Homo sapiens: one gene and its partners. The protein of the gene in region 2 interacts with the protein of the main gene of each other region in a pairwise test. Each region holds a gene or a part of one and is shown on either strand. Other genes may lie near its edges. The genes, in order: CCDC167, SYT2, CMTM3 and ORMDL3.

Region 1 (7,675 bases), on a different chromosome or scaffold from region 2:
GCTGTCTAATTCAGTTTCATGTGGATTCACTGTCTACAATTTGATTTACGTTAACTAAAAACTGGATACCAACTAAATAGCAAGCACATTCTTTTCCCCTTCCTTCCTTCCTTTTCTTTCTTTTTGCATGGTAACATGAGGTTGGGTGCAAGGAGTGGTATGTGAGTTTTCCCCAGTGAAATATATGGACAAAAAAGTTCTAGCATCTTGGCTTAGCTGAAATGTATAAAACTCACTAAGACATAAAACTGTTCCAAGCAGGCCATAAAGGCGCTGCTGCCTTTGCCTCAGAACTTGGGCTATAATCTGCTGTCCTGGAACAAAATGCAAACATAAATCAGCTTTCACAGTATTTTTAGCCACCTAAAAAATTCTTCATTTCCTGCCTGAAATGCTTCTGACAGTGAGCAATGCCACTCTCCCTCATTCTTGCTCTGAAAAGCTTCCCTTTGGGCAGCGATGGGGACCCAACACTGGGCCCCACAGCTGAGGCAAACCCAGAAGGAGGCATGGGATAGAGGAAATGGTCTCCCAGGGTCTCTAGGACAAATAAGTCAGGGATGTGGCTAGCGTATAAATTGCTTTCATGCAAAGTTGGAAAGGGCGCCCCTCCTTGGCACAGGAAGCCCTGTGGGTTCCCACTTGGGATGCCCTCTCCTGCATCTTTGCCTGACGCAATCTCATCTGTCCTCCTGGACCCAGAGCCTCCACAAAGCCATCCCCAAATACCCACCCCATTCTCTTGTTTCTGCACTCCTAATGCATCAACAGTGAGTACCAGACAGCTGGCATTTAATTATATGATGTCTGGCATGCACTATTTCATGTTGTCAGTCTGTCTCTCTAACTAGATTAAAGAGATCTTGAGGTAATCGTTAGTTCTTACTTTATATGTCTCCCTTACAGCTAACAAGGAAGCTTTATGTCTTCCTCGTTATGTCTTACAAATAACAAGGTCATGAAAAACAGGAACCTAGGGTGACTGTCTCGTTCTCCCCACTGTACCCATTGAGCAGACAAAATTAAGAGCCAAAGAGGAGGCTTGACCTGCCCAAGGTCATGCAGTGAGAACTTGGGCTAGCCAGGAACGACTCCAGTTCTCCTGTCTGTCAATGCAGCATTCGACTTTCCTGAAACACTTAGTTCTAAAACCCCCAATAGGAGGTTCAGAACCACAGCTCCCTGGGGTAATAAAGACAGACAGACAGACAGCTGGCCCACAGTAATCCATCTGCTCATGGGCAGAATTTCCAACATGGAGGCAAGTCAAGCTGCTCTAAGGCTCAGCAAACAGCCTCCATGGGAATCCAGGCTGGGTCTCTGTATGTGCCAGGGGGATGAAAGGACCTCAGTGGGGTACCTGGGGTGCTTGCATCCTCCCTGACACCACGCAGGTCACTATTGTCTGCGATGTCTGGGGCAAAGGAAACCCGTAATTGATGGTCTCAGCAGGAAGGACACATAGACAGGTGGAGAGGGCATCTCCTGTTTACAGAGAAACGCTTGTGTTTGCAAGGGGCTGCCTTTTTGCAGTGAACTATGCACCCATGATAGCAGGAAACCACCCAAGTATTTGCCCCAAATTTATAACAACAGATACAATAGTGTCAAAGCTGATAGAAACTGAAAACAAAATAATAACAAAAAATACCCATGGCAACAATTGCTAAACAAAACCCTATAACGACAAGCTGGCAGCAGCCTCATCAGTCCTGCTGAGCCTCTCCTAGGCACTCACAAGCCACAGCACCCGCCACTTAGTACTTCTCACAAATGCCCTATGAGTTTGGTATGATGTGCTTGTTTTATAGATGTGGAAGCTGAAGCTTACGGGGCTGAAGTATCTTGCCTCACATCACAGGCTGCTAAGAAGCAGAGCTGGGATTGGCATCCAGGTTGATCTCCCTCTAAAAGCCTCCCCTTTCACTACAACCCACATAGACTCTCATTCCAACCCCACTTCAAGCATTTCTTCCCATTATCAGACCTGTGGGACAAGGTTTGGTTGGGAAAACACGAGGCTCTTCAGGAAGACAGACAACAGATTGCCCATCATTTCATGGACAAGGGACCGACATGAGGCGCACCCAGATCTCTGTGGCTTTTTCTTGGTGCCAAACAAATGCAGAAGGAGTCACTTCTCAAAGAACACAGTGTTTTTCTTCCTCTTCTCACCTCTCCTGGGCCGGTGCCTGTGATAATTGGGAAGCACAGAGTCTGGTTTTTCCGGGATTGGAACCAATGCTGTGAAGAGTGTTCTGACAATAAATGTTGATTGACAGTTGATGGACAATGTTCTTGAATCAGTTTTTCCTGTGCTGGGTGTTAAGCTGAGAACTGCACTAAACAACTGCTCAACAACCTGCTTCCTGTTCAGATAGAATTTACTACACTCTCTCTCTGTGGGCCTCAGTCAGGCAGCCAGGCGAGATGGTATCTCAGACGCCTTCCAGCTCCATCACTCAATGTCTCTATCAAGAAGAGAACACAGATCTGAAAACATTTTTCCCCCTAACACTGAGTTGGGGTTATTATTCACATACAAAAACACAGGCACCAACAGAGATAACTGGTCAGGAAATAAGGAGCTTTGATTCTGGTCTCATACTCTTTGACCTAGTAATTCTACTTCTGTGAATTTATCTTAAAGAAAGAATCCAGAGGACAGAGCTGTGTGCACGAAAAGGTTTGCTTTCGCAATATTTGGAGTTACTGTCAATAAAATGATGTCCAATGCAAGAATGCGAGAGACTCCCTTGGTGGCACATGAGGCCACCGCAAGTGATAATTTCAAAGACACAGAAAAACATACTTGGCAGTGTTTTTCAAATTGCAGTTCAACCTCCATTAAGGGGTCATGAAATAAACCTAAGAGGTGTCCTGCCACCAACTTGTTTTTGTTTATTTTTTTGAGATGGAGTTTCGCTCTTTCACCCATGCTGGAGTGCAGTGGCACGATCTCGGCTCACTGCAACCTCCGCCTTCCAGTTTCAAGTGTTTCTCCTGCTTCAGCCTCCCGAGTAGTTGGGTTTACAGGCGCCCACCACCACGCCCAGCTAATTTTTGTATTTTTAGTAGAGACGGGCTTTCACCACGTTGGCCAGGCTGGTCTCAAATTACTGACCTCGTGATCTGCCCAGCCTCCCAAAGTGCTGGGATTGAGAGGTAAAGCCAGCTGGACTTCCTGGGTTGAGTGGGGACTTGGAGAACTTTTCTGTCTAGCTAGACAATTGTAAACGCACCAATCAGCGTTCTGTGTCTAGCTAAAGGATTGTAAATGCGCCAATCAGCACTCTGTAAAAACCCACCAATCAGCGCTCTGTGTCTAGCTAAAGGATTATAATGCACCAATAAGCACTCTGTGTCTACCTAGGGATTGTAAATGCACCAGTCAGTGCTCTGTAAAAACGCACCAATCAGCGCTCTGTGTCTAGCTAAAGGATTGTAAATGCACCAATCTGCACTCTGTAAAAATGCACCAATCAGCACTCTGTGTCTAGCTAAAGGACTGTAAATGCACCAATCAGCACTCTGTAAAATGGACCAGTCAGTGCTCTGTAACAGGGGACAAATAAGGGAATAAAAGCTGGCCATCCCCCAGTCAACAGTGGCAACCCACTCAGGTCCCCTTCCATGATGTGGGAGCTTTGTTCTTTTGCTCTTCACAATAAATCCTGCTGCTGCTCACTCTCTGGGTCCGTGCTACCTTTAAGAGCTGTAACACTCACCGTGAAGTCAGTGAGACCAAGAACCCACCTGAAGGAACCAACTCCAGACACAGGATTACAGGCCTGAGCCACCGTGCCCGACTTTGTTTTTTTTTAATTAAATAGGCAAGAATACAAAATAACAGAGTGCATTACAGGAGGTAAAGGTACTTACTGTGAAACTTTGGTTTTGGTTTCATGGGTAACTGGGCCATGGTATAAAATACATTTTTTTATCGTAGGGTCACAGTCAAAACATTTCAAAGGCCGTGGGTCTATGGTGTACAGTATAGTACGATTACAACAATGTAAAATACTGTGTGTGAGGCCAAGCCTGGGAGGAATAAACAGAAGCAAAGAGGAACTGATAAAGTTGGTAGAATAAAGGATGCTGCTTCTCAGTTATATGTTTTCTGTGATGTTTGTAGGTTGTTCTTACAATAAAACAAACCAAAAAAAAAAAAAAAAAGAAGTCAAGACACAAAGGAGAAATAACAATAGAGGGCCATTATCAGATTCCATTGGCCGAGAAGCTCAAGGCTCCAGCACCGGCCTTGAAGGATGGACAGACTTTGAATGGGGGGCGTGGCCTAAACAGGGACGGGGTTGTTGCTGAAACACAAAACACACTGAAAGAGAACATGGGGTTAAAAAAGGCTCTCAGTGATGCAAAGCGGCTTAAAACTGGGGAAGAAAGGGGCAGGTCTACTCCCGGGCTGTACATTCTGCCTCCCTGTACCGACTTTTCCACCCTCCACCCATCTAGGCTGAGGTCTCAAGCTAGAGGTTGCCCCTCATAAACATGTCCGCACCAAGCCGGCCGCGCCCCTCAACAAGATGGCGACGGCAGCAGCCCCACCTCCCGCTGACTCGGTGGCCAATGAGGGAGAAGCACGAAGACTTGAGCATGCGCACATAGCGACTTGGTGGGCGCGTCCAGTGATGACTGGGGGATCCCGGCAAGTAACATGACTAAAAAGAAGCGGGAGAATCTGGGCGTCGCTCTAGAGGTGAGGGGAAAAGTGGGGGTTGGGCCACCTCGTTAGTTGCCTTCTCCTGGCCGCGGGATAAGGGATAGGCTGGGCTATAGATAGGAGGAGGAGCCAAGCGTAGGATGAGAGGGCGACGCGGTTTGGGGAGAGGGACGGGAGGGGTGAGAAGGCCCACGGGGTTCCCGGAGGACAGGGAGCCCGAGGAGGTGCCGGATGGGCGAACCAGACTCTCTGGAGAGGGCATCTCCAGAGAGGAAGAGACATGGAAGTGAAGGGGAGCCCCAAAGACGGCCTGGCATAGAAGTGAGGGAACTCAAAGCGGGGGACACAGAACAAAAGGGATGGGTACAGAGGTGAGGGAGACCCCAGAGAAATAGGGACCTGTAGAATCTAAGGAGAACTCCCAAAGGGCTAGGACTCAAAGATGAGGGAGCCCATTCTGGTGTATATTATTAATGGTTTAAATATCCTCTAAAAGGGGAAATTTTTCCTCCGGAGTATGGAAGCTTGTACCTTCAAAATTACTTTGGGAATATGTAAAGAGAATTCTGGAATTGGTGATGTCACTGAATGGCTTAAAAATAATTTGCTGCATATAGAAGGGAAAGAAAACATACATACTGAGCAACCGCTATGTGCTACTTTCATTGCATTGTTAATCCTCACTGCAAGCCTGTGAGGTTTGTACAGATGAGGAAATTGAGGTTCCAGGTGGAACCCAGGCTGAGATGGTGGAAGTGGTGGAGCCTGGGAATCAAGCACAGGTGGTCTTCCTGGAAATTCATCTTGCTTCCCCTGTTTTCCTTCCCTTAGGGCATCCTCCCGGAGGTTGCAGGAGAGGTACAGGGTCATAGTCTTCTTCAGGCTTACTAGTGAGTTCAGTGATTCTCAAACTTTAGCATGCATAGAGTCACAGGGCTTGTTAAAAATGGAGAGTTGAACTCTTCCCACACCCCGAGTAATTCAGTAGGACTTTGATGTGCATTCTTAACAAGGAATCTGCTTTTTTTTTTTTAAGACAGAGTCTCGCTCTGTTGTCCAGGCTGAAGTGCAGTGGCGTGATCTCGGCTCACTGTAAACTCTGCCTTCTGGGTTCAAGCGATTCTCGTGCCTCAGCCTCCCGAGTAGCTGGGATTACAGGCACGTGCCACCATGCCTGGCTAATTTTTGTATTTTTGTAGAGACGGGGTTTCACCGTGTTGGCCAGGCTGGTCTTGAACTCTTGACCTCAAGTGATCTGCCCGCCCGCCTTAGCCTCCCAAAGTGCTGGGATTACAGGCATGAGCCACCACAGCCGGCCAGAATCTGCATTTTTTTTTTTTTTACAAGCCACACACACCCCATGGTGATGTGGGTAGTTTTAGTGGCATCCCTTGAGAAATATTGGCCCACTTGGTAGGAAAAAGGTTGATGGAAATGTGAAGAGGATGGTTTATGAGTGGTGACTGAGATGGTACTTTGTGGCGGGAAGAACATAGACTTTGTAACCTGCATTAGGGTACAATAAGCTGCAGTAACAGAGAAACTCCAAAACTCAGTGGCTTCAAGAACAAGAAAGTGAGTTTTTTTCTAACAGGCTAGAGCAAGGGGCAGGAGATGTCTGCAAATGGTCAGATAGTAACTATTTTAGAAGAGACATGGTCTCTTCTAGAGAGCCAAATGGTCTGGGTTGCAACTACAGTTGATCCTCATTATTCACAGATTCCACATTTGCGAATTTCCCTAATGGCTAAAATGTATTTGTAACCCCAAAATCAGTACTCACAGTGCTTTTGTGGCAAATGCAAAGCAGTGGGAAAAAAATTGAGTCGCTCGCAGTCCATGTTCTCAGCTAAAGTTGAACAGGTGATGATGCCCTGCCTTGTTTCAGCTGTCCTACTGTAAACAAGGGTCCTTATTGTGTTCTATTTAGTGCCCTGTTTTTGTTTTGTTTTGTTTTTTTCATTCTCATGTTTTTTATTGGTATTTCGCTGTGTTTTGCTTTTGAGACAGAATCTCACTCTCGCCCAGGCTGGAGTGTAGTGGTGCACTCTTGGCTCTGCAACCTCCACCTCCCATTCAAGTGTTCACCCCCACCTTCCCCCGACACAGCCTCTCTAGTAGCCAGGATTAGACCACCACCACATCCGGCTAATTTTTGTATTTTTGGTAAAGACGGGGGTCTTGCCATGTCGGCCAGGCTGGTCTCGAACTCCTGACCTTAGGTGATCTGCCCACCTCGGCCTCCCAAAGTGCTGGGATTAGAGGTGTGAGCCACTGCCTGATTTTGCTGTTTAAAGTGCCCCCGATCCCCGACCCCCGACCCCAAGCATAGGGCTGAAGTGCTGTCTGGCATTCCTAAATCCAAGAAGGCTGTGATGTGTTGTAGAAGAAAACAGGTTTTTTAGATAAACTGTTCAGGCATGATATAACTCATGATGTAACAGCACGTATAGTGCTGTTGGTTGTGAGTCCAGTGTTAATGAATCAACAATATATATTGAATAAGGTCACTTTAAACAGAATCACACATGAAACAAGGTTGCAAAAATGTTGTGTCCATAGGCTTGCAGGAACCTCACCTGGTTTGGTATTTGCTAATTCAATATTAGAGGCAACTTTATAGGACATAGCTACCAGGAACAACAAGAACCAACTGTATTCAGGCTAAGGTAGGAGTATGTAAATGAAGGAATATGTAAATAAGTGGGTGTGTCAGTGTTCCACTAAAGCTTTATCTGCAAGAACAGTCCTTAGACCATTTGGCCACAGGGCTTAGTTGCCAACTCCTGGTCTAGAGTACCAGGTCTATGGTGGTTCTGCCAGATTCCCTTCCTCTGTGGCTTCACCATCTCTTGAGATCTTGTCACCTTATCAGTGGAACCGGGGCATACCCCACTGATGTGTCCACCGGCAGAGAAAGAGGAGAATGGAGGAAGCACACCCACTGTCCTGGGCCCAAACTGTCCACTTTCCATTGGCAAGAACTAAAACCCC
Region 2 (7,030 bases):
GGAGGGCAGAGGGCCAAGGGAGCAAGGAGTGGGAGTCGGGGGAATTCCAGTGCTCCCCTATATCTCCTCCCAAGGGATCTCAGCCATCTGTCCCCCATCCTCTTCTTACCACCCCCTTCTTACCTGGACCTCAGGAGAACTAAGAACATTTAAACTTTCCTTTTAAAGTTCTCTGGCTCTGCACAGATAACGTGTCTTCAGACAGTGTTGCTCCACTTAAAAGAGAAACAGAAGCAAAAGCACAATGGGGAATAAATGCAAATGAACTTGGCTGCTTATATTCTGGAAAGGGAGAAAGCATCTGTGTTTCCCACTGGATGGGGTGAAGATCCAGGAGTTTAATTTTGGTCTTTCTGGTAATGGGACTTCTGTTTCTTCATAGTTTGATATTTATTGTCAATAAGAGTGAGATTTTGGGACTGAGAGTCCCTGTTAGTCTGACCCAACTAGTGAATAGCTCATATCCATGAATGTCCCAGGAACTACACTTCTGGGGAAACCATGACTGGCAGGAGGAAGTATTTGATGGCATCGTTTGGTCCTAGTTCTGAACACATCCAGTCTTCACATCTTGCTGCCTCCCAAATAGCCACCAACAGGAGTATGAAAGCCCCGATATCTGAACAGGATCCTGAGACTTTGCCATAGATGAGAGAAGATCTCCCACTTAGTGGACTTCTTCATGTCAGGGTCCCCAAAGAGCCTTCTTTTCCCACACAACTTTACTGTCCATGGCTCATTCCAGGAATGAAGAGAGATGCTCAAAGAGACACACACACACACACATTCCAGGAATGAAGAGAAATGCTCAAAGACACACACACACACACACACACACACACACACACACACATACACACACACACACACACACACACACACGATCATTGGCCACTGTGATGCCTTCCCTGTCAGGAAGCAGGATGTGCTGCCATTTTGTTGGTCCAGAAGGCTCAAAAAACAGGAACTGCTGCAAGTTTGTGCCAGTAGAGAGCCTCGCTTGGGGTGAGGCAGATGTGAAGCTTTGAAAGAGTCGAGGGAACTGTGACAGGGCATGCAGCAAGGACAGCTCCTGGGACCGTGAACAGAGCCAGGCTTCTCTTTCACCTCTTAGGGGACTCTCCTCACACAGCCATCAAAGGGAAGTTGGTCTTTAAAAAGAGAAAAACAAGGAAAAACAAGGACACAACCACCCAACAAATGAAAGAAAAAAGAAAACCTCTAAGGTTGCATAACTGAGGTATTGATAGCTCTGGATCTTGTCAGTGTCCGTGAAAGGTGTGGGGTCCCAGCCGCTGCTGTCTACTTGTTCTTGCCCAGGAGTGCATCCACCTCCTCCTCAGGCTTGAGCGAGTGCCACTGGGCGATGGGCCTCCGGGGGTTGGCCAGCATGTCGGACCAGTGCCGCAGCTCTGTGCCCGTGGCATTGCTGCCCACGAAGATCTTGCCTATGGCTTCGTTCTTGCCCAGCTTGTCATAGTCCAGCACGGTGACCACTACCTGGACTTTCTGCAAGGAAAACGAGGGAGGGAGTTGGCAGACAGAGACGTGGGATCCCATGACCAAATTTATCCTCCATCAACCTCTACTCCCAATGATTGGGAAGGTAAGGCCTCCTGGGGCTCCTTGGTTTCATCTCTGCTCCAGTGAAGACTGAATTGACATGGAGGCAGAGGCCACGCCTTTGGCAGCCTTTGTTTCTACCACTGGGCATTTATTGAGGATGTACTGTGCTCTAGACCCTGTTAAGCACTTGGAGGGGGAGAAGAGGGAAGGAAAAGTGAAAAGATGAATTTCACTTCCTCAATGAGATCAGCAGACATGTAACTGAAAACTTACAACATGAATTGATAAAGGTTATGCTAGAGAGATGGGCACAAGGTACTGTGGAAACTTAGAGGAGGTGACAGTCCTGGGGCCAATCAGAAAAGGCTTCACAGAAGAGGTGACTGGGACATGAAGTCTGAGAATTTCTCTAGGAGGAGAAAAGAAGGAAGAGGATTCCAGGAAAACAGATTTGCTTGGGTAGAGGCATAGAGACCTGAGAGTGCATTTGGCATCTGAGAAACATTAGATGTTCAGTCATTGAGGTATAGGGTGAGAAGCAGTGAGGCAGGAAATGAGGCTGGTAGAGTAGGTTGGGGTCAGCCAAGGAGTCTGCATTTTGTCTTTCAGGCAAGCAGTAGGGGACTCCTGACGACTTTAAGAAAAGGAGTGTCGTGGACATTTGAGAGAGAGAGCCCTGGCATTGAGTTGGAAGATTTACTGGAGGAGGAGTGGGCCTAATGGCAGGGAAGAGACCCATTGGAGGATGCTGGAGGGTCTGGGAGGATGGATCCCGAATACCTGTACCAAGGCAGGGACAGTGGGGATGGGAAGTCAAAACCAGGTTGGAGAGGTATTTAGGAAGAGAATCAAGAGGACTTGATGATCAGCTGGATTTGCTGAATGCTCGATGCCTTTTTCCCCTGTGACTCCAGCCAACTCAGATTTGTCCTTCAGGACCAAGCTCTCTCTGGGAAGCCTCACTACAGTCCTCCGCTTCATGGACATTGAAGCTGTCGTCTCACTGTGCTTTACTAGACTGTTTACTGGTGCCCTCCCACTGTGAGGTCCTTGAGAGCAAGGAGTGTGTGGATTACACACTTATTTCCTCATCCCCTAGCCTACCACTTAGGAAATGCTCAGTAAAGTATGTTGGATAAATGAGAAAGGAAAAAGGAAATAGTCAGTCTAAGGTGACGCCCAGGTTTCTGACTTGGGCCACTGGGTAAATGATGGACTGTGGGGTCATTCATTGAAAACAGAATTCAGATGAAACAGGCTTGGCTGGGAAGAGGTAGGAAGAAGAACATTACATTGGTTTTAGGCATGTTGAATTTGAGATGCCTGGGTCAGGATGCTCTAGATCTAAAATTCTCTGTAATGAGGACTTCTCTTGGATTAACATTATCACTGAGCTGCCCAGTGTTCCCTTGAAGTATTCCATCAATAACATCATACACATCTCCATAGATGACAGAACCAACTCTGAAGATTCTCTTGTACCCTTGCCCCCAGCCCTCCTGCGGGGAGGAGAGGGGGTGGGATCAGCTCACTACAAAGAAGGAGAGACCAAGACTCCATGATAACCGACCACTCTGCAAGCCCCCAGCTGCGCCTGACTTCCCGCCCAAATGGGTGGGTGGGTGGGTCTCTTGTCCTACCACGTCCAGATCCCACTCATACCTGGAAATGGTGAAAACCAGACCTCATCTCCAACATTTACAGAACTTGCTGGTGAGAAGGAAGGAAAAATAGAGAAGGCTGGAAGGGTGGAGGGAGAGAGGAGAGGAAGCAGATCAGAGGAGTAGATGGGAAAGACCTAGAGAGCAGTGGAAGTGGGGCAGGGATGGCCAAGACAGGATGTGGCTGGAGAGGATGGAGGTGGCAGCGGCCACTCCCACCCTCTCAGCCAGCTCCCAACCCCTCTGGCACCTTTGCTATACCCCCATACATCTGTGTGCATGACCATGGTCCTTCAAGTCCTAAACGAATGATTTGCAGAATTTTTTGAATTAGTTCATGTTTATCTCCTCAGAAAAGGGGGATCCCTGAAGCACTTGGGAAGGAGGCCCCACCCAGGCACCATTAGACCTCGAGCCTTCCCCTACCAAGAAAGGCTGTTCCATGGTCTCTAGGTGAGTTCCCTCTCTTCAACCTCCCCATACATGTTTGCCTCCCCAAACCCTGCTCCATGCCTAGGAACCCAGGGCTCCAGCACCTGAATCTGCTCGAAGGGGATCTCAAAGCTGAAGGACTCGTTGAAGTATGGGTTCAGGGTCTTCTTCTTCACGGTTGTCTTCTTCTTCTTGAGCCTCTTGCCATTCTGCATCAGGTGGATCTTCACGTACGGGTCTGCGGAGGGAGAATCCCAACCCCAGAGAGGTTCCCCTTAGCCCCCAGCCTTCCTGCCGAATGTACCAAGGCCTGCCCAGAGCATCGGTCAAGAGGGGGTCTTCACTCCGCTGAGACCAGGCCCTCAGAAAGCCCCAAGTCATGCCATCCAGTTCAAAGGTGGCAAAAGGCTTCACCTCCAGGACCAACTGTGACCAGTTGGTTGTGGCTTCCTGAAGCATTGGGTGGAGGGCATTTCTGAGTCTAAGTAAGGCCTTGTGAGAAAGAGTCTGGGGATTCATCTGTGATCCTGTACTGGGGAGTGGGTGGGGAGTGCTGAAGTCAGGACACACATCTGCTGGGTCATAATCCCAATCCGATCCCCCTAATCTTGCAGACAAGAAACTGAGGCCAAAGAACGGAAATGACCTGCCCGAGGTCACACAGCGGGTCAGTGACAGAGCCAGGCTGGCACTGAAACGCGCTGGTTGGAGCCCATGCCCAGGGCTGATTCTCTGGGAAGGCAGCTGAGGCAGCAGGCTTCATCCACTAGAGCCCTGTGCCATGGGCCAGCCCCATTCACTGCCAGGTAAATGTGATATTCAGAGCATCTTCCACTCCCTTGCCTCACCCTCCCCTTTCCAGGGCAGAGCCAGCAGAGCCTACAGCCTCTTCTGGAAACATGTCTCGATTGTGGTGTCATGCTTTGGGCTAAGCCCTGCTCATTTCCCTGGGAGAAGTAAAATCCTAAGTCACAAACTTATCTGGGGATGAAATTTCTCTGATCCTTTTCTCTGTAGCCCACAGTGCATGGCCAGAGAGCGCTGGGAAGGCAGCTCTGATGGGGACAAGGGGCCCTTGGAGAAAAGGAGGGCCTGGGAAGCTAAGGCTCCCCCGCTCCTCGAGGAGACATCTCAGTCCCAGGGCAGCAAAGTGTTCCTCTTCACTGGAGTGTGCAAACTCTGGGACTTGGTGCTGACTGGCTCGCTGGTGCCACCCAATGGCAGCCAGAAGCTCTCCACGTACCTGAAAGGCCGCCCACGTCCATCTTCTTGAGGTTCTTAGCCTCCAGGATGCAGACAGTGAGCTTCCCGGCCGTGGGCACATAGCGCAGGGAGGTGCAGATGTCGCCCAGCTTCTCCGGCTGTCCAGGGGAAGAGCAGGACTTGGGTCATCTCACCCATCCTAGTGCCTCTCTCATGGCTGACCTCTTTCTTGCCAAAATTAGCAAGGCAGTGATGTGTCCCTGCCTCCCTCATCACCAGTCCCCATATATGTGATGGCCGAGAAGGTCTTCCAGCATCTGACCTTGGGTCCCCCTGATGCAGTGCAACAAAGTCCCTGAAAGTGACAGGTTGGGACCTCAGGAGCCGTGGGCTGAGGATGCTGACAGATGAGGGGGGTAGAGGACAGCTGCGGTGGCAGGACTGAGGGAGGGATCCCTGGGTGGATCTGGGATCTGGGAGGTTGGGAGTATGTTTGGGCTCCCACCCCAGGCCCTGGTAAGGTGGGAAGGTGTGCGAGAAGCGGGTGGGTTAGCCACGTGTCCACCACCAAGGGCCCTGGGGGACTGAATGTCTCAGAAGCCTTCTTTCCCTTAACAGTCCCACCCACCAAGATCTCTCCTTGTGGACCATTCCACTTGTAGTATGATTTGTGGTTTTCGGAGCAATTTGCATCCCTTTTGTTACTATCACTGCAACTCTTTGATGTAAACAAGACAAGAATTCTTTGTAACCAATGAGAAACTGAGGTTCCCAGAGGCCATGGTTTGCTCAAAGTCACACAACAATTTAGCACTGTAGGCAGGCTGAGGACCCAGGGCTCCTAATTCCTAAGGCCAACACCACACTGCAGAGTCAAAGCTGCTCAAAGTCAAAGCCACCCAGGGCAAGACTGACGACATCACACAGGTCCTGGTTCAGGTGTGCTGGCCTTCCTCCCAGGCACAGGGGACAAAAGGGAAAAAAGGATGTCTTAAGCTTCTCTACTCAGCCCTCCATCACTGCCTAGAGTGTGCCAGGTAGCAGGGCCCTGGCCAAGACAAATGATTGATGCCCAGAAGGAAGAATGGCTAAAATGGAGTTTTAGGTACACAGCAATTGCTCAGCAAATATTTAGTGAGTGAATGGATGCTGTAGCAGTTCTGGGAGGACAAGTCCCTTTGCTGAGTATCCTTTAGAACAAACATGAGCTTTTCTTGTGGGTGAACTGAGGCACAGAGGCGTGAATCACTGGCCTTAGGTAATAGCAGAAGCTTAGGAGTAACAATAATAATGGTGTTTTTATTTATTTGAGTACCTACCAAATACCAGTCGCTGCGCTAGGCGCTTTATGCAGGTAATGAATCCTCATCTGTAAAAAAAGACTAAAGGAGGGAACCCGAGTCCAGAGAGTGTAAGCAACTTGCCCAGGGTCACACAGCCAGGCAGTGTGGAGCTGGGATCCTAACACAGGTCGTCTGCCTCCAAAGCCCACCCTGTTTCCATCATGCCAAGAGGTGGAAGCCCACCTGTACATTCGTCTTTCTGCCCAACCTGGCCTCATCTCTGCTCTTACCTCCTCCTTTTCCCCGCCTTGCAGGTCTCTCCACTCCTCAATGGGCTGGCCGAGGTCCACTGTGTTCATAGGCACCTTTACCTCTCCAATGATGTCATGTTTGGAGAAGCGGTCAAAGTCATAGATGGCCATCACCAGAGTTTTGCCCCCAAGCTCCTGGTATGGCACCTGCAGGGCACAAGCAGAATCAGAGGGGGCCAGAGCGACTCACGCACCTCCAGGGGTGCTATGGGCAGGGGCCTGCATTCCAGCCCACAGGGTCCAGGTTAGTGTGCCGAGACAGACAAAGACCAAGGCTTTTGGGGAGCAGAGTGTGAGGGTGGGGTGGGAGGGATCCCGATCCTCCATAGAGGCCGGGGTAGCCCTGCAGTCAAGGCTGCCATTGTTCCAGGCTGAGCCATGGCTAAGGACCAAGGAAAGGTCTGTAGAACTCAGCAGAGAATTGGGATCAGGCAGGGAGCTGGAGTCACCCTTCCAGCCCTCAGCACCTTGAAGGTGAAGGTTTCATTGAAGGCAGGGTTCAGTGTCTTCCGATGGACTTTGGTCTCATATTTCTTCTTCTTGTCAGGAAGGAGGAAGACCTTGACATAAGGGT
Region 3 (7,411 bases), on a different chromosome or scaffold from region 2:
CCCAGCCTTCCAAGCACATGCACTCCACTCAGTGCCCTGCGGAGGGAAATCAAAGCGAGGCAGGAACCAGTTTCCAAAAAGTAACACCCAACACCAAAGACGTGTGCTCGTCACTGAATGTAGATTTCACCTTGAAAAGAAAAAACCTTGAACCTTAATGATATGCGTCCTGAAGTGTTCAGAGTTGAAATGTCCTGATGTCTGCAATTTATTTTGTGTTAAAAGATAAAATGCCTTGATGGACAGATAGATAAAGCAAAAAAATCTTTTGGAGTTTTAATGTATTTGCAAATTTTCATAATGATAAGAAAGGAACATCTAACAGAGGGTGCGTTGGCACTGACACCTCAGGCCCTGCTGCCTTATTCATACAGGGCCAGCTGTGAAAGGTGGGGCCAGCTGTACTTGAACTACAAGAATCAAAATGTTCACTGTGGTCTTGCCCACAACTCTGTAGGTGGGAAGAGCTGATGCAGGAGGATGTTGAGCCCTGGGCAGTCCTGCAGCCCAGGTACGCTGCAGAGCAGGCCAAGGTGACCTGTTGGCCAGCCTGGGGCTCCACAGTGCCTGGTACCCTGAGGCTCACGGGCATCTCCTCTGACCCTCACATCCACCCATGAGCACAGCCCCACTTGACAGATGAGAAGACTCTGTCACATGGCTAATCAGAGGCTACTAGAATTTGAACCCAGGGCTGGCTGACCCCCCAGATAGAGTTATCTTACCTCCGCCCCAGAGATGGAGTCTTGCTCCGTCTCCCAGGCTGGAGTGCAGTGGCACGATCTCAGTTCACTGCAACCTCCACCTCCGGGGTTCAAGTGATTCTCCTGCCTCAGCCTTCCCGAGTAGCTGGGATTACAGGCGCCCGCCACCAAACCCAGCTAATTTTTTTATTTTTAGTAGAGACAGGGTTTCACCATGCTGGCCAGGCTGGTCTCGAATTCCTGACCTCAGGTGATCCACCCACCTCGGCCTCCTAAAGTGTTGGGATTACAGGCATGAGCCACCACGCCCGGCCCAGGTAGAGTTCTTAAGCAACTTGGCCCTGTGGGTGTTGGGGAGGCCATCTGTCCCTGGTTTCTGTCACTGTGGCTGCGTTTGAACATGTCTATGGCTGAGTAGTTTCTAGTGGGTGCAGGAGTCCCCATGGGGACACCCAGATGCCCCACAGGAAGCACTGTGGCTGCTTCAGACAAATGAACTGCAGGGATCCCAGGGGGTCCCCAGAGCACCCCCATTTGCTCTGCACATGGCCTTGGGTGCAGCTGAGCCCCCTTTGGAAAGATAGACTAAGGCATAGAGACGGGCTGGGAGGCTGCTGGGGCCTCCCAGGAAGGCCTTCCATGGGACTGACCCAGCTCTGGCCCTCCCCTTCCTGTCTCCTATGCCTGCACCCCAAAGCCTAATTCTGGGGATTCCCCTCTCAATTCCTGTTTTTTCATCCCGCGATTTCTGGGGCCACTTCCTCTCTCTGTTTCTGTCCATCTCAGCCTCTGCACTTGCTTGGCCTGGGGGTGGGAGTGAGGGGACTAGGGAGGCAGGAGTGCCCTCAGCGGCTCCTGTGAACCCTGAGTGCTGACCGTTCACCCTTCCTTATCCTCCCTGACCTGGATTCCTGACATCTGCTGGGCCCAGGGTGGCCTCTATGCTCCTGCTGGACATATGCCTCCCTCTTATGAGGTGGTCTTGGGTGGGGATGGGGGGGTTCAAGCCACTCTGGGGACGGTGGATTCGAGGCTTCTCCCCTCAAGTGGCTCCCAGTGGTCTCCAGGGTGGGGCTGGGAGTGTGGGCTCGGAGTGTGGCATTGGTGTCTCACTTGGGCGTTGGGCAGGTGGCCTCTGGGCTGACCGTGGGAGAGGCTGCAGGACCACCTTCTGCCCTCTGCCCTGAGTGACCAGGGAGAGGTCCCGGAGCAGAATCCCCCTTCCTCCTGCCCCCACCCTCCTGGCCGCTCTCACTGGGCCCCTCAGTTGAGCCACCTGTCAAATCAGGCGCCTGAGCGCTCTCATCTGTAAAGTGGGGACAAGGGCAGGAAGCGCCAAGTTCCTGGGATCTAAGCAACAAGTGGCCGCCGCCGTGCGCCGCTCTCTCCTCCCGCCTCCCCCGGTCTCCGGCCCGGCCTCTCCCTCCCCATCCCCAACGGCCCAGCGCCACCCCTACCCCACAGCGGACAGTGCGGGCGCCTCCGGTGTCCAGAGGACAAAGAAGCCCCACCGGCCGGGGTGGGGGCGAGGGCGGAGTAGGAAGGAGCCCGGCCGCGGAGGGGAGGAGGGCGATGAAGTCACCGCGGGGCCGCCTCACCCAGTCCCGGGGGTGGGGGATCCCTCCCGCTCCGCACGGCCCCCCGCCGGCTCGGCCCCGCAGGTCGAGGCCCCGGCCCGCACTACCCGCTCGCAGGAAAGCGGACCCCGCTGCGGCCCGGGAGTCCCGGAGGTCCGAGTTGCCCGAGTCCCCGGGGCCCAGAGAGGGCGGGGGCGCCTGGCTCACACAGCAGGACCCACATCCCCGGGCCCCACCCACTTCCCACGGCCCCCAGCTCTGGACTCGCGGGGACAGCGCCGCGGATGGCCTGGGCTCGGGCCCCGCCCCGCCGTCCAAAGTTTGGGGACCTCGACCCAACTTCGCCAGGCGCCCGAGAGAAGTCGGCCGAGGCGGCGCGGAGAGGGGGTATCGGAGCACGGCGGCCGCCCCCGGACCCCACCCGCGCCCCGACGTCCTCCTCCGAAAGGAGCCGCGCAGTCCTAGCGGGGCGGCCGAGGGTCCCGCCGCACTCACCGACTCGGCCAGCAGGAGGCGGCCTTTGAGAGAGCAGAGGAAAGCCCGCGCCGGCAGCAGGGCGCGGAGCCCGGGGACCGCGGGGCCGGGACGGGAGCCGCCGGCAGGCTCGGGGTCCGGGTCGGGGTCGGGGTCTGGGGGCCACATGGCGGCGGCGGCGGTAGGGCCGGGGCTCGGCCTGGCTCCCCTCTTCTCGCGCCCGGAGGGAAGCGGAAACCCGGGCTGTGCGGAAGGAGGGCAGGCGACACTGGCTCGCGCAGGGGCGCATCCCCCGCCGCCACGCCCCGCCCCGCCCCCACCCGCTCCTCCAGCCCGCCCCTCCCCCTCGGACCCCGGCTGCGGGGGATGCTGGGCCCGACCCGCCCCCTCCCCGGCCTGGGGCCTCCGCAGACTCCACCTTCTTCTTCACCCTGGTTCGGGCCGCTGGAGACCTCCCGATCACCGCCCCGGCACCCCTTCGGAGCTCCCACCCGTCTGCCCCTATCCAGAAGGGCTGTCTATACTCGCTGTCTCCGGTCTAACTTCCTGCCCGTGCGCGTGTCTGGGATCCGGGAACCCAGGCGTCTAAACAGCAAAGACCCCGGCCGTGATGTCGGCTCCGCAACCCATGCCCTCTCTTTTTCTTGGGGGCCGGAGTTTTCTTGCGACTTTCTTGGCCACCCCTCCTGTCCCCGGCCAGCCCCACCCTCCTCCAGGGCCTCTTTGTTGGCTGTTCCAGGCCTCGGTCCTGCACCCGCCTCCCCCAACCCATTCTCAGAGGACTCTCAGACCTGCAAGCGCAGCTCCAGGCACACACACAGACACACACACACGCGCGCGCGCGCGCAAACACACACAGGCACGCACATCTGCAGGACTTCCTGACCTGCAGTCCCCCCACCCCAACACATCTCTCTCTCTCACACACACACACACACACACTCCACACGCACATGCGTGCACATCTAGAGAGCGTCTGGAGTTCAGCGTGATCAAGACCCAGCTTCCTGTGCCTCTGCGAAGGGCACTGCCCCCTCCTTTCCTTCCACCTGACTAGCGGAGACCTGCGGGTTGTCCTTGTCCCTCTTCACCGGCAGTCTGTAACCAAGGTCCTCCCACTTTCACCTCCTATAACTTTCTCTGATCTCTGTCTACTTCTCACCACCACTAGATCCGAAACCATTCCTGCCTGCTCCCCGCTGAACTGCTGTGATGGTGTCTTTAAGAGGCCCTTAGGTTTTCTCTCTGGGCAGCCGGGGGAGAGCTTATGGCACAGTACTGCGCACCCTTGACATAACTAACTCCATCTTAGAAAAAGACTTCATTTTATATTTCATAGGGTGCTTTGCCAACAAGGGCAAGATGTTTTGTTTAATAAAAAATAGAAGGTCAGGCGCTGTGGCTCATGCCTGTAATCCCAGCACGTTGGGAGGCTGAGGTGGGTGGATCACGAGGTCAGGAGTTCGAGACCAGCCTGGCCAATATAGTGAAACCCCGTGTCTACTAAAAATACAAAAATTAGCTGGGCGTGGTGGCACCGTGCCTATAATCTCAGCTACTCAGGAGGCTGAGGCACAAGAATCGCTTGAACCCGGGAGGCATAGGTTGCAGTGAGCCAAAATCACACCACTGCACCCCAGCCTGGGCGACAGAGCAAGACTCTGTCTCAAAAAATAAAAAAAAAAATAAATAAAGACTGCGTCCAACCACATAAGGACACAAAGAAGCACACTGTTCCTCTACCATTTCTCACCAGAGCACTCTGTGACTACAAAACAGCAGCCCAGCAGCCTTAACTGACAACCATCCCACTGCCGTTCATAAGAACTCTGCATCTGCCTCCCAAGGCTCTGCCCCTCAAAGACTCTGCAAGACCCTCAAGCCCAGACCAGGATTCCTTTTGTCTTCTTCCTTACCCTGGAACTGGTTCCTTAACCCTTTCTCCTATCTCTTTTTCTCTTGATGTTAAATGCTACTTTGTTTGTTGTGGAATGTTTATAACATTTACATGTGGATTAAGTATACTATTATATATGGTTTGCAATATTGACTGACTTGTGGAGTGGCTTGAGCCCATGTGCTCACTACTGAGTGAACGGGAAGTACTAAGGAAAATTGGCTCCTTGGGTCTGGGTGCAGTGGCCCATGCCTATAATTCCAGCATTTTGGGAGGCTGAGGCAGGCAGATCACCTGAGGTCAGGAGTTCGAGACCAGCTTGGCCAACATGGCGAAAACCCATCTCCACTAAAAATACAAAAATTAGCTGGGCGTGGTGGCACAGGCCTGTAACCCCAGCTACTTGGGAGGGTGAGGCATGAGAATCACTTGAACCCAGAAGGCAGAGGTTGCAGTGAGCTGAGATCGCACCACTGCACTCCAGCTGCACTCCAGCCTGGGCGGCAGAGTGAGACTCTGTATGAAAGAAAAAAGAAGAAGAAGAAGAAGAAGCAAATTGGCTCCTTGGGATAGCTTGTGGCTTTTGTTTTTTTTTACCCTTGGGTATAGGGTGAATAAAAATCTGACACTGTGGAAAGACACAAACACGTGTGGACCTAGTTATCTCTTTTTTCTTTCTTGAGACAGAGGCTTGCTCTGTCACCCAGGCTGGAGTGCAGTGGCATGATCTTGGCTCACTGCAACCTCCACCTCCCAGATTCAAGGGATTCTCATGCCTCAGTCTCCCAAGTAGCTGGGATTACAGGCCTGTGCCACCACACCCAGCTAATTTTTGTATTTTTAGTAGAGACAGGGTTTTGCCATGTTGGCCAGGCTGGTCTTGAACTCCTGGCCTCCAACAATCTTCCCGCCTCGGCCTCCCAAAGGTTTGGGATTACAGGCGTGAGCCACCGCACCTGGCCAGACCTGATTATCTCTTGACCTTGTACCACTCATGACAATCACCAGTCATTGATCACTTTTGATGGCAGCCGTGGCTCCAGACAACCTGCTGCTATCATCACCCAGCTGCAGCAGGGAGGCATGGCCTGGGCTGCACACTCCATGGAGCAGGCAGGAGTCCTGCTCTCCCAGGTGCAGCTGCAGCTACCCAAACTGCAGCTGCAGAATGGGGCCTCCTCCATGGGGCAGACAGGAGCCCTGGGACCCCCTTTCCCACAGCTACAGCTGCCCAAACCACAGCTGCAGGCTCAGGCATCCCTGTACTCTTAGGGGCCCAGGAAGGCCCCCACCTGCCCTCCCAGGCTCGGAAGTGCCTTCTCCTGCTGCCTGGCTTCTTCCTGCTGTGGACACGTGCTCTGATCTGGGAGCAAAGTTGGGGCAAGCCTGGGCTTCATGAATGGCAGCAGGAGGCGGACAGATTCCTGGGTGGAAGGGGGCAAGTCCCATTGAGGCCCCACCTTTGGGCCAGGGAGGGCCTGAAGGCTGGGGGCCAGGCTGCCAGTCCGACCGACCAGAGTGGGAACTTGTACCTCCTTTTCTGACCCACCCATGGCTGCCCATAGATCAACTGGGCTCACACTTCCTCCACTCTGAGGCCCATAAAAGCCCCAGTCTCAGCCAGAGCTGAGCAGAGGTTGGGAGGACCAGGTACAGAGAGGAGCCACACTCTCCAGGGCCTCCTCTCTGCTGAGAGCTGAACACTCAACGGGATGACCTCCCTACAGAGAAGAGCTACCCACTGTCAGTCTCCTCTGAGCTTTCTAACACTCAGTAAACCTCCTTGTTGACTTGTTCTCCCTCCACTTGTCTGTGTACCTCATTCTTCCTGGATGCAAGACAAGAACTCTGGCAAAGGTGCCACTGGCCACAGAGGTTTCCAACCAGAAAATTAACACCCCAAAGATCCTGTAACACTTCCATCTCCTCCCCACAAAGATAAACACACACACACACACACACACACACAGACACACACACACACACACACACAAACCATGGGAGCTTCCCAACCTGCACAGGGTCTTAGTATAGAAGGAAAATATAACTCTTTGCTGTGCTTCCCTCCCCTGCCTCTCCCATGGACCTCTTACAGTTCCTGGAACAAACTATGGTCCCTCCTGCCACAGAGCCATTGTCCATGCTGACCCCTCTACCCAGAATGCTTCTCCACCTTCTTCTCTAATTAACTCCTCCTTATTCTTCAGTGACTATAGTGCAGTATTGCTTCCTCAGAGAAGCCTTTCTTGACATTCATTTATTCATCCAACAGCAGTGCCTAGGGTACAGCAAGGCCCCAGCTTTTTCTGCTGCTGCTGGTGATGGTGGTGGAATAAACACTAAACATATCCAGAGAATCCTGAATAAGGTGTTCCTGGTAATAGATAACAGATGTCTGGCTGGTTGGGAGGACAGCCAGGAAGGGAGTGTCAAAGAAAGGACTGAGCCAAGGTGTTTGGGGGGAAGGGTGGGGGAAGATGGGGGGAGCTGGTCAGAAAAGGGGCAGGGCTAGACTGGGAGGACCAGAACCTGGAGTTTGGATTTTACGGACAATTCCCTAGGAGGAGGCCAGGTGAGGGTTCTAACAGAGAGAAATCTGGTTCCCATTGGTGTTATTAAAAACGTGGCCCTGGGCTGGGCGCAGTGGCTCATGCCTGTAATCCCAGCACTTTGGGAGGCTGAGGTGGGCTAATCACCTGAGGTCAGGAGTTGGAGACCAGCCTGGCCAACATGGTGAAACCCTGTCTCTACTAAAAACA
Region 4 (4,089 bases), on a different chromosome or scaffold from region 2:
CTGCCACTCAGGCTTATGGTGGGAGGAGGAAGTATGAAAAGTCCCCTCCACTGAAAGGCCAGAAGGAAACGCAGCGCTCCCAAGGGAGAGGTGACTGGGGAAAGGCCTTGGGGAGAGAAGTGAGAAACTGGAGAAGGGCTGGGGATTCACTGGGAAGGACTGAGCACCACTTGGGACCCTGGCTCCACGTGTAAACCATTGCTGGAGTGTCCCCCTCCTTGGCCATGGCACAGGTCACCCCAGCCTCTGGGGCCAAGGCGCAAGACCTGTCGGAGAACAGCCAGGCAAAAGCACAGAGAATTTTGCTCTCTGACTACCGCTGCCGCCGCCAGTTCCCTCACAGCCCCCTTGGGGGATTTCCCTGCTGAAGCCAGCAGAAAGCCCAGCAGTCCCAGCGCCCCTCCTGCCACCGTCAGAGCTGCACTGATGCCCCACCAGCACCTCAGCGGGAGCCGCTGCCCACACCCCTGCCCCCTCCCCTCAGCCTTCCAGGAAGCGAAGGCCAGACACAGGGAAACAGAAACATGTTGCCCTTTTATTTGCGTTTCTCAGAATACTGTACAAAGGGAGTAAAAATCCTATTCACACTTTGCTTAGAAAGATTTTAAGGTGAAAGTTCCCTATGATACACGGGGTGGGAGATGCAGGGTCAGGAGGGAGAAAACAGGCCCAGTGACCTCTCCCGTTCCCTTGGACCCCTGGAAGAGGACACAGGGACCCACACCTTTTCAAAATTAACACTGCCCCTAGTCCAACTGGGGAGGGGAGAAGGCTCCAGCCCAGGCTCAGGCTCCCGGCCTCACTTTCTTCTCTGCAGGCTGAGACAGTGCCTACAGGCCACGTCTTGCCCCTTCCTCTGTGCTGCTTGAGCAGGGATCCTACAGGACTCTCACCACAGACCCCACATGGGGTGGCCTCACAACGCCACATGTGGCTGCCACATGAGAGGCCCTGCCCAGTGCCAGTCTGTATGAGGAAGTTAAGGGGTGAGGGCCTGCAGAGGACCACAGCACCCATCGTTTCTGTCACAGCTTCCCCATACCCCCGCAGGAGTCAGGGCCAAGTTGGACCTGTGCTTACAATGACTCACGGGCCTTTTCCCCACCTGTCTACCCAACAGCCAACCCAGGAGTTAAACCCACAGCAGCCTCCCTCCCCTATTACTATCACATTCTGTGGGTAAATTAACCCTCCAAGCCTGCTTCCCTCCCTGCCCACATCCCAAAGGAGATTGGGTCTAGCTTCTGTCCCTACCCCTCCCTCCCTTACACCAGTCCTCTGCTGCTATGTGGCCCCATTCTTCTAAGTCTCGACTCACTAGCTCTCCTACAGCTCCCCAACCTCCACCAGGCCAGGATGGCAGCAGCCCTGGCCCCCTCACCTCTGGAACCAAGCCATCTACACTCTACCCCATCTTTCCCCAACCTGACCCTCCCCACTCCCAACCAGGACCCACGGTGGGTTGCAGAGAAGCTGCCAAAAGCCTGGGACTTGGATTAGACAGCTCCCTACCCAGAAAGGCAAAGACCCATCCCACACTTGCTTCCATACACAAAAGCACACACTGCGTGGCATCGAAAAAACCTAGGAATCACAGTGAAACAATCCAGAAGCCGTACCGCCCTCTGCTCCCTATGCAGGGGTTAAAGTGCTTTGGCTGCCTGAGGGCAAACAAGTGAGCAGGGGTTTTTCCCCTGGCCTCCTGTCGCAACTGCGTGGTCCATGTTCAGCCCAGGAGCCCAGCCCATTCCATGACCAACTCCATGGAGTCTCTATTCAAAAAGCAAAAGGAAAAGATCAAAAAATTCAGAAAAGGTCAGAGCCCAGGGGGCCTACCCCAACCCCACTACAAGCTACTCCAAGTTGGCTACTGGGGGAAGCGAGGGGGGAAATTAGGCCAGAGGCTCAACCCCCATCTCTGGCAGTGTCCAGAGGCTTCTTCTTTCTGTCTTCAGTGTTGCAGCACATGCCTTTTACCCTACCCCTCCCCTGCCACCCTGGGCAGGGGAAGGGGCTGCACTCTCAGTACTTATTGATTCCAAAAATCCGGACTCCGTGGAGCTGGGGCAGCTTGGGGATAAGCACGCTCATCAGGGACACGGTGTTGAGCACAAAATGGATCTGGTCGTACTTAGTGTAGAAGCTGGTGAGGAAGTACCTGGGAGGGGAAGGGTGGGGAGAGATATAAAAGACTGTTGGGAGGACCCCTTCCTCCCTCACTTCCTGGGAGGGGAAAGGCAGAATCCCAACAGCTAAGGAGTTACAGAAGAGGTTCCCAGACCAGCGTAAGAAGCAAGAGCTCTCAGGCTAAAGGGGCCCCTCCTGGCCCAGTACCGCCCCCACCTCCCAGCTTCACCCCAAGCCTGTAGGCCTATCTCACTAGCAGGAAGGAAGCTCCAATGGAGGAAAGATGGGGCCAGGGAGGCCCAAAGCCTGAGTCCAGTGTAAGACCCAGGAATATTCCAACTTCCTCTGTTCATCCCTACACCAGGAGCCACGGCAGGGTTAATAAGCATGGCTGGGCCCTGGGGTCCTCCAGGCCTTGCCCTGCCTGCTGGTGTCTTCCTGTAGCCCAGGCACTCACAGCACGATGGGTGTGATGGTCAAGAACTTCCGAGAGGCCGTGAACTGGACCCCATAATCCATCTGCTCCCAGTGGGTTAGCAGCCTCGCCTTGCCCTGGTCCGGGGTCTCAAAGGGTGTCCCCTTCACCGTGTGCAGGAAGATATACATGCCCTGGAGGAAGAAGTCTTTGTTAGAGGATACAAAAGGGAAAGGCCCCCCTGCCCAGCTCCTCCACCCAGTCACAGACACAAGTAACTCCCAGTGATCTGGAGCCTCCCTCTGCTGGGCAGGGGGATATGGGCTGGAGGTCAGGATGGAGCAGCTGGGAGTATGGCAGGAGAAGAACAAGGGGACTCCCTGGGGGACGGGCTAGGCCTGGCATGAGAATGCACGGTGGAAGTTGGCCACAAGATAGGCACCGAGATGCTGCCCCCCTCCAGGCCACTCATAGCCCCCTGTGCCTGTTGGGAGGAGGCAAGCGATGGGACTAAGCCCTGCTTACCCGACAAAGAGTGCAAGGTAGCAAGTGGTGAGGGAGCAGAGAAGGGCAAAAGTGGAAGACGGTTCGAGAAGCTAACTTGAGAAAGGGGCATTTCTGTATCAGCCTAGGCACCAGGACTCTCGGGTCCTGGGAACTCTCTGGAGCCCTTTGTTCAGCTCTCAGGAGCACATCTTCCAGGCCAACAGCCACCCCACCCTAGAGATGTGGAAAAATCTGCAGATTTGATTCCTGTCATGGTACACAGGGCAGGAACCCAGAAGGGGGAGCAAGGCAGAGAGGTAAGGGCTAGGCCTGGGCTCTGGAGGCAGATGTCGTCAGTACATCACCCTGACACCTGGGCCAGGCCCGACAGGCTCCTCCTATCCCTCAGCCCTGCCAAAGGGCAGCCCACAGGGCAGGGGCAGGGGCAGGGGCAGGCAGCAGACAGGCTCTCACCATGTTGTGAATGAGGTTGGTGAGGGTCCAGACGACAGGGACACTCACAAACGGGATGCTCAGCAGCACGATGTGGAGGAGACCGATGGCCAGCACGTAGGAGAGCCAGATGCCACGGCTGTTCATCACCCGCGTGTTGGGGTTCACCTCGCTGTGCGCTGTGCCCACATTCATCCTGCTGCCCCTCTCTGCTGTTCTGCAAACAAGCAGCACAGGTCAGACAGGTCACACTGCTTTCCCTGCCCCCTCTCACCCTCGGATCCCGCTGGGAGGCAGGCCCTTGTTTCCCTGAGAACTCCAGGCAGTTCCACTCTTTTGATTCTGAAGCATGGAAAGTGGAGAAAGTCCATGTGGACTTAGCTCTACTCATTTCCTGCTGCTGGGCTGGGATAAACAACAGGCTGCCCCATGCATCATCCCATTGGGACAGGGCCCTGGCAGGGCATCGGAGGACAGGTCATCAAGAGGCACGCAGCCCCAGGGCAGAGAAGTCAAGGCCCATCCCCCAGCCTCACCCCCTATGGCACTCCCATGAGGACCCTCTGCCGACAAAGCCCCAGGGAGAGAATTCTCACTCAGCACAACCC

Evidence for each region.
Region 1: the proteins of SYT2 (region 2) and CCDC167 interact in binary tests that used the Homo sapiens proteins (3 or more experiments, as listed by UniProt).
Region 3: the proteins of SYT2 (region 2) and CMTM3 interact in binary tests that used the Homo sapiens proteins (3 or more experiments, as listed by UniProt).
Region 4: the proteins of SYT2 (region 2) and ORMDL3 interact in binary tests that used the Homo sapiens proteins (3 or more experiments, as listed by UniProt).

Annotation. Positions count from the first base shown.
Region 1 is NC_000006.12:37,496,864-37,504,538, reverse strand, and holds the start of CCDC167 (coiled-coil domain-containing protein 167), read left to right. Parts: upstream 1-4,645; 5' UTR 4,646-4,675; coding exon 4,676-4,717; intron 4,718-7,675.
Region 2 is NC_000001.11:202,595,455-202,602,484, forward strand, and holds part of SYT2 (synaptotagmin-2), read right to left. Parts: coding exon 6,924-7,030; intron 6,604-6,923; coding exon 6,436-6,603; intron 5,021-6,435; coding exon 4,903-5,020; intron 3,898-4,902; coding exon 3,764-3,897; intron 1,510-3,763; coding exon 1,303-1,509; 3' UTR 1-1,302. UniProt on the Homo sapiens protein: Exhibits calcium-dependent phospholipid and inositol polyphosphate binding properties. May have a regulatory role in the membrane interactions during trafficking of synaptic vesicles at the active zone of the synapse.
Region 3 is NC_000016.10:66,600,318-66,607,728, reverse strand, and holds the start of CMTM3 (CKLF-like MARVEL transmembrane domain-containing protein 3), read right to left. Parts: upstream 3,026-7,411; 5' UTR 2,924-3,025; coding exon 2,777-2,923; intron 2,721-2,776; exon of another isoform or gene 2,505-2,720; coding exon of another isoform or gene 2,409-2,504; intron 1-2,408.
Region 4 is NC_000017.11:39,920,528-39,924,616, forward strand, and holds the end of ORMDL3 (ORM1-like protein 3), read right to left. Parts: intron 3,699-4,089; 5' UTR 3,677-3,698; coding exon 3,503-3,676; intron 2,737-3,502; coding exon 2,585-2,736; intron 2,159-2,584; coding exon 2,023-2,158; 3' UTR 516-2,022; downstream 1-515. UniProt on the Homo sapiens protein: Plays an essential role in the homeostatic regulation of sphingolipid de novo biosynthesis by modulating the activity of the serine palmitoyltransferase (SPT) in response to ceramide levels.